3 linked regions of the Homo sapiens genome follow. The protein of the gene in region 2 purifies or fractionates together with the protein of the main gene of each other region. This does not show direct contact. Each region holds a gene or a part of one and is shown on either strand. Other genes may lie near its edges. The genes, in order: DHTKD1, MORN5 and CHST15.

Region 1 (3,500 bases), on a different chromosome or scaffold from region 2:
GTGAGCCATGATTGTACCACTGCACTCCAGTCTGAGTAACAGAGCAAGACTCTCAAAACAACAACAACAACAAAAAAACCTACCAATTTCCACAGATAAAAAAGAAGCTGACTTTGATTCTTCACATCTTATTTCTTTTTTTTGCCCTTTGAGATGGAGTTTCGCTCTTGTTGCCCACGCTGTAGTGCAATGGCCTGATCTTGGCTCACTGCAACCTCCGCCTCCCAGGTTCAAGTGATTCTCCTGTCTCAGCCTCCCGAGTAGCTGGGATTACAGGCATGCACCACCATGCCCAGCTAATTTTGTGTTTTTATTAGAGACGGGGTTTCTCTATGTTGGTCAGGCTGGTCTCGAACTCCCAAGCTCAGATGATCCACCTGCCTTAGCCTCCCAAAGTGCTGGGATTACAGACGTGAGCCACTGTGCCCAGCCTTCACATCTTATTTCTAACTATACTATTTCACCAAGTTTAGTGGTTGAACACATCCCTTATCACTAAGCCCCTGGGCACTCCAAGTTTGAATATCCTAGAGATAACAACTCTGGTGTTGTACTCATTGTGTTGATCTCTGACTTGTACCAGATCACCCATCCAGTTATAAGAAATTTGAGATGGCACACTGTGGCTCCATCCTTGTCTTATTTCTTTGGATTTAAAAATCACACTGATAGGCTGGGCATGGTGGCTCACGCCTTTAATCCCAGCACTTTGGGAGGCCTAAGCAGGCAGATCACCAGAGGTCAGGAGTTCAAGACCAGCCTGCCAACATGGTGAAACCCCGTCTCTACTAAAAATACAAAAATTAGACAGGTGTGGTGGTGTACACCTGTAGTCCCAACTACTTGGGAGGCTGAGGCATGAGAATCACTTGAACCTGAAAGGCGGAGGTTGCAGTAAGCCGAGATCACGTACTCCAGCATGGAGTACAAGCTGGAAAGGGCAACAGAGCAAGACTCCATCTAAAAAAAAAAAAAAAAAAAATTAGCCAGACATGGTGGTGCACGCATGTGGTCCCAGCTAATCAGGAGGCTGAGGCAAGAGAATCACTTGAACTCGGGAGGCAGAAGTTGCAGTGAGCCAAGATCGTGCTGCTGCACTACAGGCTGGGTGACAGAGCAAGACTCCATCTCAAAAAATTAATTAATTAATTAATTAATTAAATGAAAGGAGGGATAACCAGTGAGGCTCATTGTTCTGTGTGCACCAGAGGTTTCCCTAGGAATTCCATGTCGGCTTCAGCAATATCAGTTCCTCCCTGTGTTACGTACCAATATCACTGCAGTATAAAGAAGACCTTCCTCTTTCAGCTGGAGTGGTGTAACCCAGCTGGTTATTAACAATCAAATGCACACTCCCACCAATTCTGAAATGTGGGAGATTGGACAGCGTGAATGTTTCAGGAACAATCCCTTGACCACAGAAAGAAGCATCACCATGGACCTAAATCATGAGGCAAGGGGAGCGGGTGGGGAGAAAAGAAACATAAGGGATTAAGAAATCTAGGTTTTCAGGTTGGAATAACTTTTTTTTTTTTTTTTTTTGAGACAGAGTCTTGCTCTTTCGCCCAGGCTGGAGTGAAATGGCACGATCTCAGCTCACTGCATCCTCTGCCTCCCGGGTTCAAGTGATTCTCCTGCCTCAGCTTCCCTAGTAGCTGGGATTATAGGCATGCACCACCACACCCGGCTAATTTTTTGTATTTTTAGTAGAGGCGGGGTTTCACCATGTTGGTCAGGCTGGTCTCAAACTTCTGACCTCAGGTGATCCACCCTCCTTGGCCTCCCAAAGTGCTGGGATTACAGGCATGAGCCACAGCGACCAGCCTCATTTATCATCATTTTAAAGAAAATGGCCTTTTCACCTTTTATTTCAGAAGTCAATCTTTTTTTGTTTTTTTTTGAGACGGAGTCTCGCTCTGTTGCCCAGGCGGGAGTGCGGTGGCGCAATCTCGGCTCACTGCAAGCTCCGCCTCCGGGGTTCACGCCATTCTCCTGCCTCAGCCTCCCGAGTAGCTGGGACTACAGGCGCCCGCCACCACAATCTTAAGATCAGCTCAATGTACTGGGTAAAAATGAAGGATTAAAATAGAGTATTATAAATTATGTGAAAGGTAAACAGAATGTCTGGCTAATGATTTCAAGATTTCTATTTAGAAACACCCTATCAGGCCAGGTGCAGTGGTTCACACCTGTAATATCTACACTTTGGGAGGCCAAGGCAGGAGGGTTGCTTGAAGCTAGGAATTTGAAACCAGCTTGGCCAACCCAGCAAGATCATGTCTCCACAAAATAAAATAAAATAAATCAGCCAGGTATGATGGCATGCACCTGTAGGCCCAGCTACTTGGGAGGCTGAGACAGGAAGATTGCTTGAGCCTAGGCATTTGAGCCTACAGTGAGCTATGATTGCACCATTGCACTCCTGCCTGGACAAAAGATTGAGAACCCATCTTGAAAGAAAGAGAGAGAAAGAAGAAGGAAGGAAGGAAGGAAGGAAGGAAGGAAGGAAGGAAGGAAGGAAGGAAAAAGGAAGGAAGGAAGGAAAAAAGGAAGGAAGGAAGGAAAAAAGGAAGGAAGGAAGGAAGGGAGGGAGGGCCGGCCATATCATAATGAAATCCAATTCTGCCTACTCCCAATTTATTCACTACAAGTTTCTGGCCTGTGAAAAATTAAAATGCATAGGATAACGTGGCATTTACAAACATAGAATATTTGATTGCCTTATATATTTATCTATTTCTGTGGAATTTGAAGACTGATTCTGAAATCCAGGTTTCATGATCTCCTGTAGTTAAAGGTTCATATTTAAATGAATACTCACAGAAGAAACATGACCACAGCCCAAACCTCTAAAAGATACTTGTTGTGTTACCAAAAACTGGGAGACAGGGTAGAAAAAGAACGAACCACACTGATAATTTGTGTTATGTGCCTTAATACCAAAGACTTTCATTTTCAAATAAACAAGCAAAAAAAAAAAATAGGCTAGGTATAGTGGCTCATGCCTGTAATCTCAGCACTTTGGGAGGCTGAGGTGGGAGGATCACTTGAGGTCAGGAGTTTGAGACCAGGCTGGCCAACATGGTGAAACCCTGTCTCTACTAAAAATACAAAAATTAGCTGGGCGTGGTGGCACGTGCCTGTAGTCCCAGCTACTCGGGAGGCTGAGGCAGGAGAATCACTTGAACCCAGGAGGCAGAGGTTGCAGTGAGCTGAGATTTCGCCACTGCACTCCAGCCTGAGTGACAGAGTGAGACTCGGTCTCAAAAAAAAAGCCATAAAAAAGAAAAGATAATAAAGTAAACAAGAAACGAAGTAAAACCACACTTAAAGTCTTTTTTTTTTTCACGCTTGTCTTGTTATATGTATGGGAACCACAAAGTTTCCAAGAAGGCCATACTTCCAGAGAGATAATGACATCTGTGCTCTAAGAAGGAGCAGGTTTGCCAGCCCAAACCCCAAGTTAATTCATAAGCCATGCAAGGAAAACAGAAGTGGAA
Region 2 (3,728 bases):
CCACGCCCAGCTGATTGACTCCATTTTGAAGGGGAGAAACTGAGGCGCAGTGGGTAAAGTCCCTTGCCCATGGTCCTCTGGCTAGCACAGTGGAGCTGAGATATGAGGACTGGCCTTCCTGGCTCCAGGACCTGGCTCTTTTGCATTCTTCTACGCCTGCTCAGTTCCTCTTCCCCTTTAAGTTACTTTAGTAGGACACAGTCCACTTATCCGAAACTGTCTTAGTTTCCCTCTCAGTTTGGGTATGAAGGAAAGGGTGGGTGCCTGGGTACCTGCAGGCTTCAAGCCATTGAGGATCTCTGTGTAAAACCTCCGATCATAGCCGTCGCAGTAATGCCAGTTTTTCTCATCATAGTGCAGCCCATCTGAGAACGTATATGTGCCCTGGAAGACAAGGAGCACACACGTGCATCTGAGGAAGCTGAAGGCTTTTGGCCAAGAGGTTCAGATGTCAAGGGAAGTGGGGGCCTTTCTGATGGCTGCAGTAAAGAAGTGGTAACTATCACAATTATTATGGTTGTGACGACAAGAGGGAATGGGTATAAGTGCCGAGCCCTGTCCCTGCCGCTCAAAGTGGGTGAACTCACTTTGGCAGATGAACTTGGGCAGACGACCCACTCTCTCTGGCCCTTCATTTCCTCATTTGTAAAATTAAGTTAATGATAGTGTACATAAAATAGGGTTGATTGAAAATTCAATGAGATAGCACACGTGAAGCATTTAGCACAGTGCCTGGCTGTGATGGTTGATTTTGTGAGACACCTTGACTGGGTTAAGTGAAAGGGATGCCCAGATAGCTGGTAAAACATTTCTGGGTGTGTTCATGAGGGCGTTTCTAGAAGGGATTCACATTTTAATCGGTGGGCTGAGCAAAGAAGTTCCACCCTCACCAAAGTGGGTGGGCACCATACAATCCGTTGAGGGTCTGGATAGAACAAAAAGGCAGAGGAAGCGCCAATTCCCTGTCTCTGCTTGTGCTGGGACATCCATCTTCCTTGCCCTTGGACATCAGCATTCCTGGTTCTCAGGCCTTTGAACTCTGACTGGGACTTACACCATTGATCCCCCTGGTTGAGGCCCTTGGGTTTGGACTGGAACTACACTAACAGCTTTCCTGGGCCTCCAGGTTGCAGAGGGAAGATTGGGAGGCTTCTTAGCCTCCATAATCTTGTGAGCCAATCCCTAATATAAATCTCTTTCCATACATCTCTATATATCCTATTGGTTTTGTGTCTCTGAAGAACCCTGACTGACACACTGACACAAAGTAAGCACTCAATAAATGTTATTATTCTTTTATTATTATTATAGCTGGAAAGGTCAGAGCCATCAGCCACGGCCCTTTGTCCAAACACATACATTCTGCCTTTGCTGCCTTACTGCTAAAGGAAGCCTCAGGATGTAGAAATTGCATTGGCCTGGGCATCAGGAAACACGGGTGGAAATTCCAATGATACTATTAATTCACTGTGTGACCTCGGGAAAGTCACATCCCCTTCCTGGGGCTTAGACTCTCCAAGCTATAAAACAAGGAGCCTTTCTTAACCTTTTTTAGGTCATGAGTCAGGCCCCAAGATGCTCTTAGTGAAACTGATGAAAGCTATAGATGCTTTTCCTGGAGAAAAACTTAGTCCCCTTTACACAGAAACTTCTGTATATAAATCAAGAGGTTTCAGTGACTCCCTGAATTCTATTCATGACTCACAAATACCAGGGGGTAAGAATCCTTGGATTAGGTAAGTTATAATGATAGTAGCAGTGATGGTGGTAATAAGAGCTAACATTTATTGAGTGCCTCTTGTGTGCTGGGAACTTAGCAAAGTGTTCACATATATATATTGAGGTGCCTTGTACTATTGTGGTAGGCTGAATAATGGTCCCCCAAAGATGTCCCTGTCTGCTGCAACCTGTGAATATGCTACTTTACATGGCAAGAGGGATTTTGCAGATGCAATTAAATGAAGGATCCTGAAGTGGGAAGATTATTTGGATTATCTGGGTGTGCCAAATATGATTGCAAGGTTCCTATGAGAGGGAAATAGTAAGGTCAGGGTGAGAGAAGAAGAGATGACGATGAAAGCAGAGGGACGAAGGGTGACGTGATGATGAAAGCAGAGGTCGGAGTGATGCGTGGCCATGAGCCAAGGAATGCAGGCAGCCTCTAGAAGCTGGAAAAGGCAAGGAAACAGGTTTTCCCGTAGAGCCTCTGGATGGAATGCAGGCTTGCTGACTTATTTCAGACTTTTGAGCTCTAGAACTGTAAGATAATACATTTGTGCTGATTTCAGACTAAATTTGTGGTAACCTGTTATAGTACCAACACATAACTAATGCAACTAACTGTCCCGAGTTGATAGGTGAAGAACTCTCAGGGAGGTGAAGTCGTGGGCCTAAGATCAGGCAGTAAGTGGTGTAACAGATGCAAACTCATCATGGCCTCTCCACAGATCCTTCCAGATCTAGAGGGAGAGGATTCTAGAGCCCTGGGAGATCCAGAAGCAGGGAGAAATTAGCCGGGCATGGTGGCACATACCTGTAATCCCAGCTACTCAGGAGGCCTAGGCAAGAGAATAGCTTGAACCCAGGAGGCAGAGGTTGTGGTGAGCTGAGATCACACCACTGCACTCCAGCCTGGGCGACAGAGACTCGTTTTCAAAAAAAAAAAAAAAAAAAAAGGTCAGGTGCGGTGGCTCACACCTGCGCACCTGTAATCCCAGCACTTTGGGAGGCCAAGGCGGGTGGATCACAAGGTCAAGAGACTGAGACCATCCTGGCAAACATGGTGAAACCCAATCTCTACTAAAAATACAAAAATTAGCTGGGCATGGTGGTGCACGCCCGTAGTCCCAGCTACTCGGGAGGCTGAGGCAGGAGACTCGCTTGAACCCAGGAGGCGGAGGTTGCAGTGAGCCGAGATTGTGCCACTGCACTCCAGCCTGGTGACAGAGTGAGACTAAAAAAAAAAAAAAAAAGTGGGGGGAGTGGGGGAGAAGCAAAGAGAAGAGTGAATGGAACAAGGTGGGCACCAGACAGGGAGGATGGGGTGCCAGAGGGTGAGGCTCTTCTTGCGTGAGGATCTCTCCTCCACAGCATCCGTCCCCCCAGCTGATCACCTTTATGGCCAATCCGTTTTCCCAAATGGCGTCGTATTGGCTTCCGCTGGGGAAGTACAGGGTTCCCTCGCCGTGAAACATGCCATCCTTCATTTCCCCAACATATATTGTTTCGGTAGGGAGGATGTACTTGGCTTTGCCCTCCATCCTGTAAAGACACAGGGAAATCACTGAGCCCTGTGTGACAGCTGGAGGATCAGAGCTGGCAGGCAACAGAGTGAGCAGGAACCCCGTTCTCAGCATTCTCATCCTTCTCATCCCAGCAGTACTCTGCTGAAAACAAAATTTTTGTTTTGTTTCCCTCAAAAGCTCAAAAACGAAAAGAGGGGAATAGAGTTTGCTCTGTTCATTCTCCCCTTCACCTAGAGGCTCACTCTCACCTTGGAGTTCACACTGCTCCCTGAAATAAACCCCCCTAGTAGGCCCAGAGAGCGTAGAGATGTGCCCAAAACCACACACAGTAAAAACTGTGGACACTAGAGCCCAGGTTTTCTGGCAGCTAGTTCTGTGATTTCTCTGTCCCCCATGACCAACCCATCCTTGCCTATTATGCCACAAGTGGAATATTAGGGAAAATATGAAATTTAGAGACAGGAGTAAGGGTTTGAAGCTTAC
Region 3 (3,728 bases), on a different chromosome or scaffold from region 2:
GTTTTGTTTGCTTTTTAAAGAATCTAATTCGATTTTCTGCAGCAGAAAGACAGGAGGGTGCGAATTCCCTCCCCGCTGAGCTGCTGGTTGGAGTCTCATTTTTAACCCCGGCTTGGCCCTGTCTTGGACATGTGAAAAAATGTTTTCTTGGCTTTAATGATGGAGTTTCCAAGTAGGGGATCTTGCCCTTTTGTTTCTTTAGTTTGGAAGAATTGTTTGTAGCAAGCGATGGGTCAGGGGTGGTTGAGCAAGTTTGAAGCAGAGGTTGATCCTTGAGGTTTCTGACATGTCCCTCCAGCTGCCCTCAGGGATAAGAGATGGGGGTAGGGCCTGAGATGTCTGGCCTGGCTTCCCAGAACTGGCCCCTTCTGCATCCCCGCCCCAGCGCCTCTGCAGGACTCAGGTCTCAGCCTCTACTGACCAGCCTTTCTCAAACTGGCTCCTTGATACCCTAGTGAGATTCCTTGGCCAATTAGGTACTTCCAACTTTGTGTATTATATTCCTCTCTTGTGGATTCACAGGGCTTATTAGCATATCAAAGGCCCTGAAAAGTTCAGCTGTAAAGAATTCTGTGTAATTTTGTCCATTCCACATTTTCTCCAAATAATTTAAGCACAGAACACTCACCAACGGCAAGCAGAACATTTTGTGGGAGGAAGACATTTTGGGAAACACAGCTTGGCTGTTTCTTGGCCACCATATTTTGAGAAAACATGAAGTTTTCAGTCCAAGGGGCATGAACATTTCTTCTGTTGAGTTCTGATTGTTTAATCCTTCAGCCAGTACATGGCGATCTTGATGCGCGGTTAGTTAATGCTGCCTCTATGGAGACAGTGAGGGTTGTTTGAGGGGTGGCGTGGGTAGAGTTGGAGATGAGTCTACCACTCTTGGGTAATTTTCAATTGCTAAAGAATAATCATGTGGTATAGGATCTCTCATCTTTGATTCCATTTCAAATGTTTTTGGCATTCACTGACAATGAAAAATCATCATCATAATAGTTGATGATGCTATTATTATCAATGCTGTCTACCTTTTATGGTATGCTAAATATGTGGCAGGCATTATTCAAACTGTTTACATGTAGTAGCTAATTTAGCACCTGTTAAGGTGTCCTTATTATCCTAATTTTACTATTGAGGAAACCAAAGCTCAGAGAGGTTATGTGGCTTGCTCAGGGTCACACAGCCAATTAGTGGTGATCTACCACTGCTAGAAACTGAGTAGGTCTCCTTTTATGCTTATCCATGGCTCTTTCTACGACATCTACAAAGAAGTGTCATTTGGGCAACAATATATTTTATAACCACAGGATTCTATTAATGGGTTTTTAAGAATCATATCTTGCTCGAGATGATGAAAGTGAAAAATTATGTCAGGTTCTGAAGCTCTGTGTCACTCGAGGGAATCCTATACATTGGATTTAATTGCTTAATAACTTAAAGTCAAGTAGTTTTTTAATATGATACATTCTACTGAAGGAGAGACTCATTTCATTGTTTCTAAATTTTCATTAACTTTTGCTTCCTAATCTGATAATAAAGGTTAACTCTAAGAAAGAGACTGCTGATGCCAGTGAGAGGGAAAAAACACATTTTCTCTGCCTGCTCCCTTTCTAACCATCCTCCTTAGTATTCTTGAGATTTTTCATTGACTGAAAAGCACTGATATTTCAATCCATCCCTCAAATTTGTAGTCATTGACTGTGCATGACTCTGAGAATGATCACAACATCCTGGGATTCAGAGATCCTGTACCTGAGAAGTATCAAGGCAGAGGGATTAGGGGAGATGTAGACTATGCACAATGTGAGACGTTTGATGTGGCGCTGGTGGTGCTGGGATTGGGGCCATGTTTGGTGGCAGAAATTGAGCCCCAAAGCCAGCTGCAAGAACCTGAAACCTCTTCCTTTATGCTCGCGATTTTCTATGACTTGCTTAGAACCAGGCTGGCTTGGCTGGACTTAGAGGTGGAAAAGAGAGTGAGCATCTGTCTCTCCTTGGAGGATGAGCTTTGGGTTATTGCTATTACCACACAATGTAATAAAGCTTCTTGTCTTTCTGTGTAGGAAATCTGGCATTTTTTAAAGTTTGCGCCCCACAAAGAGGAAATATTCCAAAGGTACTCAGGATGTAAAAGGGGAGATCTTCACAGATGCCTCCGTGGATGGCATGGCAATCCATCCATCAATGAGAAGACCATGATTTCTTTTAATTTTCTGTGTGTTTCCACATTCCCCAGTGAGAATTCTTCCACCTTTTTTTGTGCCATGGGAAAAACCTGAAGGGCAGGCAGAGCTGCTCCCGAACTTGTGACCTTCTCTGAGGTTGCAGCGGCTCTTGTAGAACATGACTCTGGGACATCACTTCCTTTTGTTTTCTTTCGGAGCTGAACCAAAGAATGTGCACCCTCTTTCTCTAGTGCTGTGGTGTCTGCTTATTTTTGTATTTGTGCTTTCCATCCATCTTCTGTGATCACAAGGCATTCTTAAGGTTTTCTAGCACGACTTGCGGACATCCAGACTCGTGGGGGGCCCACCCATGGCTCGGTAAGCCAGCAGCCCAGGGCACTGGCACTACCATGAGGCACTGCATTAATTGCTGCATACAGCTGTTACCCGACGGCGCACACAAGCAGCAGGTCAACTGCCAAGGGGGCCCCCATCACGGTCACCAGGCGTGCCCCACGTGCAAAGGAGAAAACAAAATTCTGTTTCGTGTGGACAGTAAGCAGATGAACTTGCTTGCTGTTCTCGAAGTGAGGACTGAAGGGAACGAAAACTGGGGTGGGTTTTTGCGCTTCAAAAAGGGGAAGCGATGTAGCCTCGTTTTTGGACTGATAATAATGACCTTGGTAATGGCTTCTTACATCCTTTCTGGGGCCCACCAAGAGCTTCTGATCTCATCACCTTTCCATTACGGAGGCTTCCCCAGCAACCCCAGCTTGATGGACAGCGAAAACCCAAGTGACACAAAGGAGCATCACCACCAATCCTCTGTAAATAATATTTCATACATGAAGGACTATCCAAGCATTAAATTAATTATCAACAGCATCACAACTAGGATTGAGTTCACGACCAGACAGCTCCCAGACTTAGAAGACCTTAAGAAGCAGGAGTTGCATGTGAGTAGCTTTGTGCTAATCTTGACTGATTGGTTGATTTTTAGAAATGAGTGCTTTTCTTTCTATCACCATCTTTGGGAACACAGAAGGAAAATGACTAAAAAATGTCTTAGATGTAGCAAGGATCATTTGACAGCCTTATGGATTTGAATGCACTGAGAGAGTGCTGTTTGCTTACGCTATGGAGTGCCAGGAAGGGAATCTGCTGTCCTGAACGCTGGGCTAGGCATGTTCAAGGGCCGCTGGCTCTCATTATTGCATTCCAGGACTTCTTGCTTGATATGTGGTCGTGGTAGTTAACAGTTGCTTTTGCAGATCACCATCATTTGGGATTTTAAAGTTGCGTTAAATTTGATTTTCTGCTTCTATTCTACATTTTAATCTCTAACGGCAATTTAAATATACAACTAGTAAAAAGATTCTGCTTAATTACCGTGTGTGCGTGTGTGTTGTGTAAGTGTCAGAAAGGTAAATTATGGTAGAATGGATTTTAATTAAACTTTTATCTTTATTCTCTCCAAGTTTTTTTTTTTTTTTTTTTTTTTTTTTTTTTTGTGGGGCGGCGGGGGAGAGGAAAGCACAGTCATTGACCGTCTACCAA

Evidence for each region.
Region 1: the proteins of MORN5 (region 2) and DHTKD1 purify together in Homo sapiens (affinity purification with mass spectrometry; one large-scale study listed by BioGRID and IntAct). This does not show direct contact.
Region 3: the proteins of MORN5 (region 2) and CHST15 purify together in Homo sapiens (affinity purification with mass spectrometry; 2 studies listed by BioGRID and IntAct, with this or other methods). This does not show direct contact.

The regions. Positions count from the first base shown.
Region 1 is NC_000010.11:12,089,454-12,092,953, reverse strand, and holds part of DHTKD1 (2-oxoadipate dehydrogenase complex component E1), read right to left. Parts: intron 1,442-3,500; coding exon 1,270-1,441; intron 1-1,269. UniProt on the Homo sapiens protein: 2-oxoadipate dehydrogenase (E1a) component of the 2-oxoadipate dehydrogenase complex (OADHC). Participates in the first step, rate limiting for the overall conversion of 2-oxoadipate (alpha-ketoadipate) to glutaryl-CoA and CO(2) catalyzed by the whole OADHC.
Region 2 is NC_000009.12:122,166,301-122,170,028, reverse strand, and holds part of MORN5 (MORN repeat-containing protein 5), read right to left. Parts: intron 3,262-3,728; coding exon 3,114-3,261; intron 385-3,113; coding exon 273-384; intron 1-272.
Region 3 is NC_000010.11:124,045,066-124,048,793, reverse strand, and holds part of CHST15 (carbohydrate sulfotransferase 15), read left to right. Parts: intron 1-2,069; 5' UTR 2,070-2,581; coding exon 2,582-3,127; intron 3,128-3,728. UniProt on the Homo sapiens protein: Sulfotransferase that transfers sulfate from 3'-phosphoadenosine 5'-phosphosulfate (PAPS) to the C-6 hydroxyl group of the GalNAc 4-sulfate residue of chondroitin sulfate A and forms chondroitin sulfate E containing GlcA-GalNAc(4,6-SO(4)) repeating units.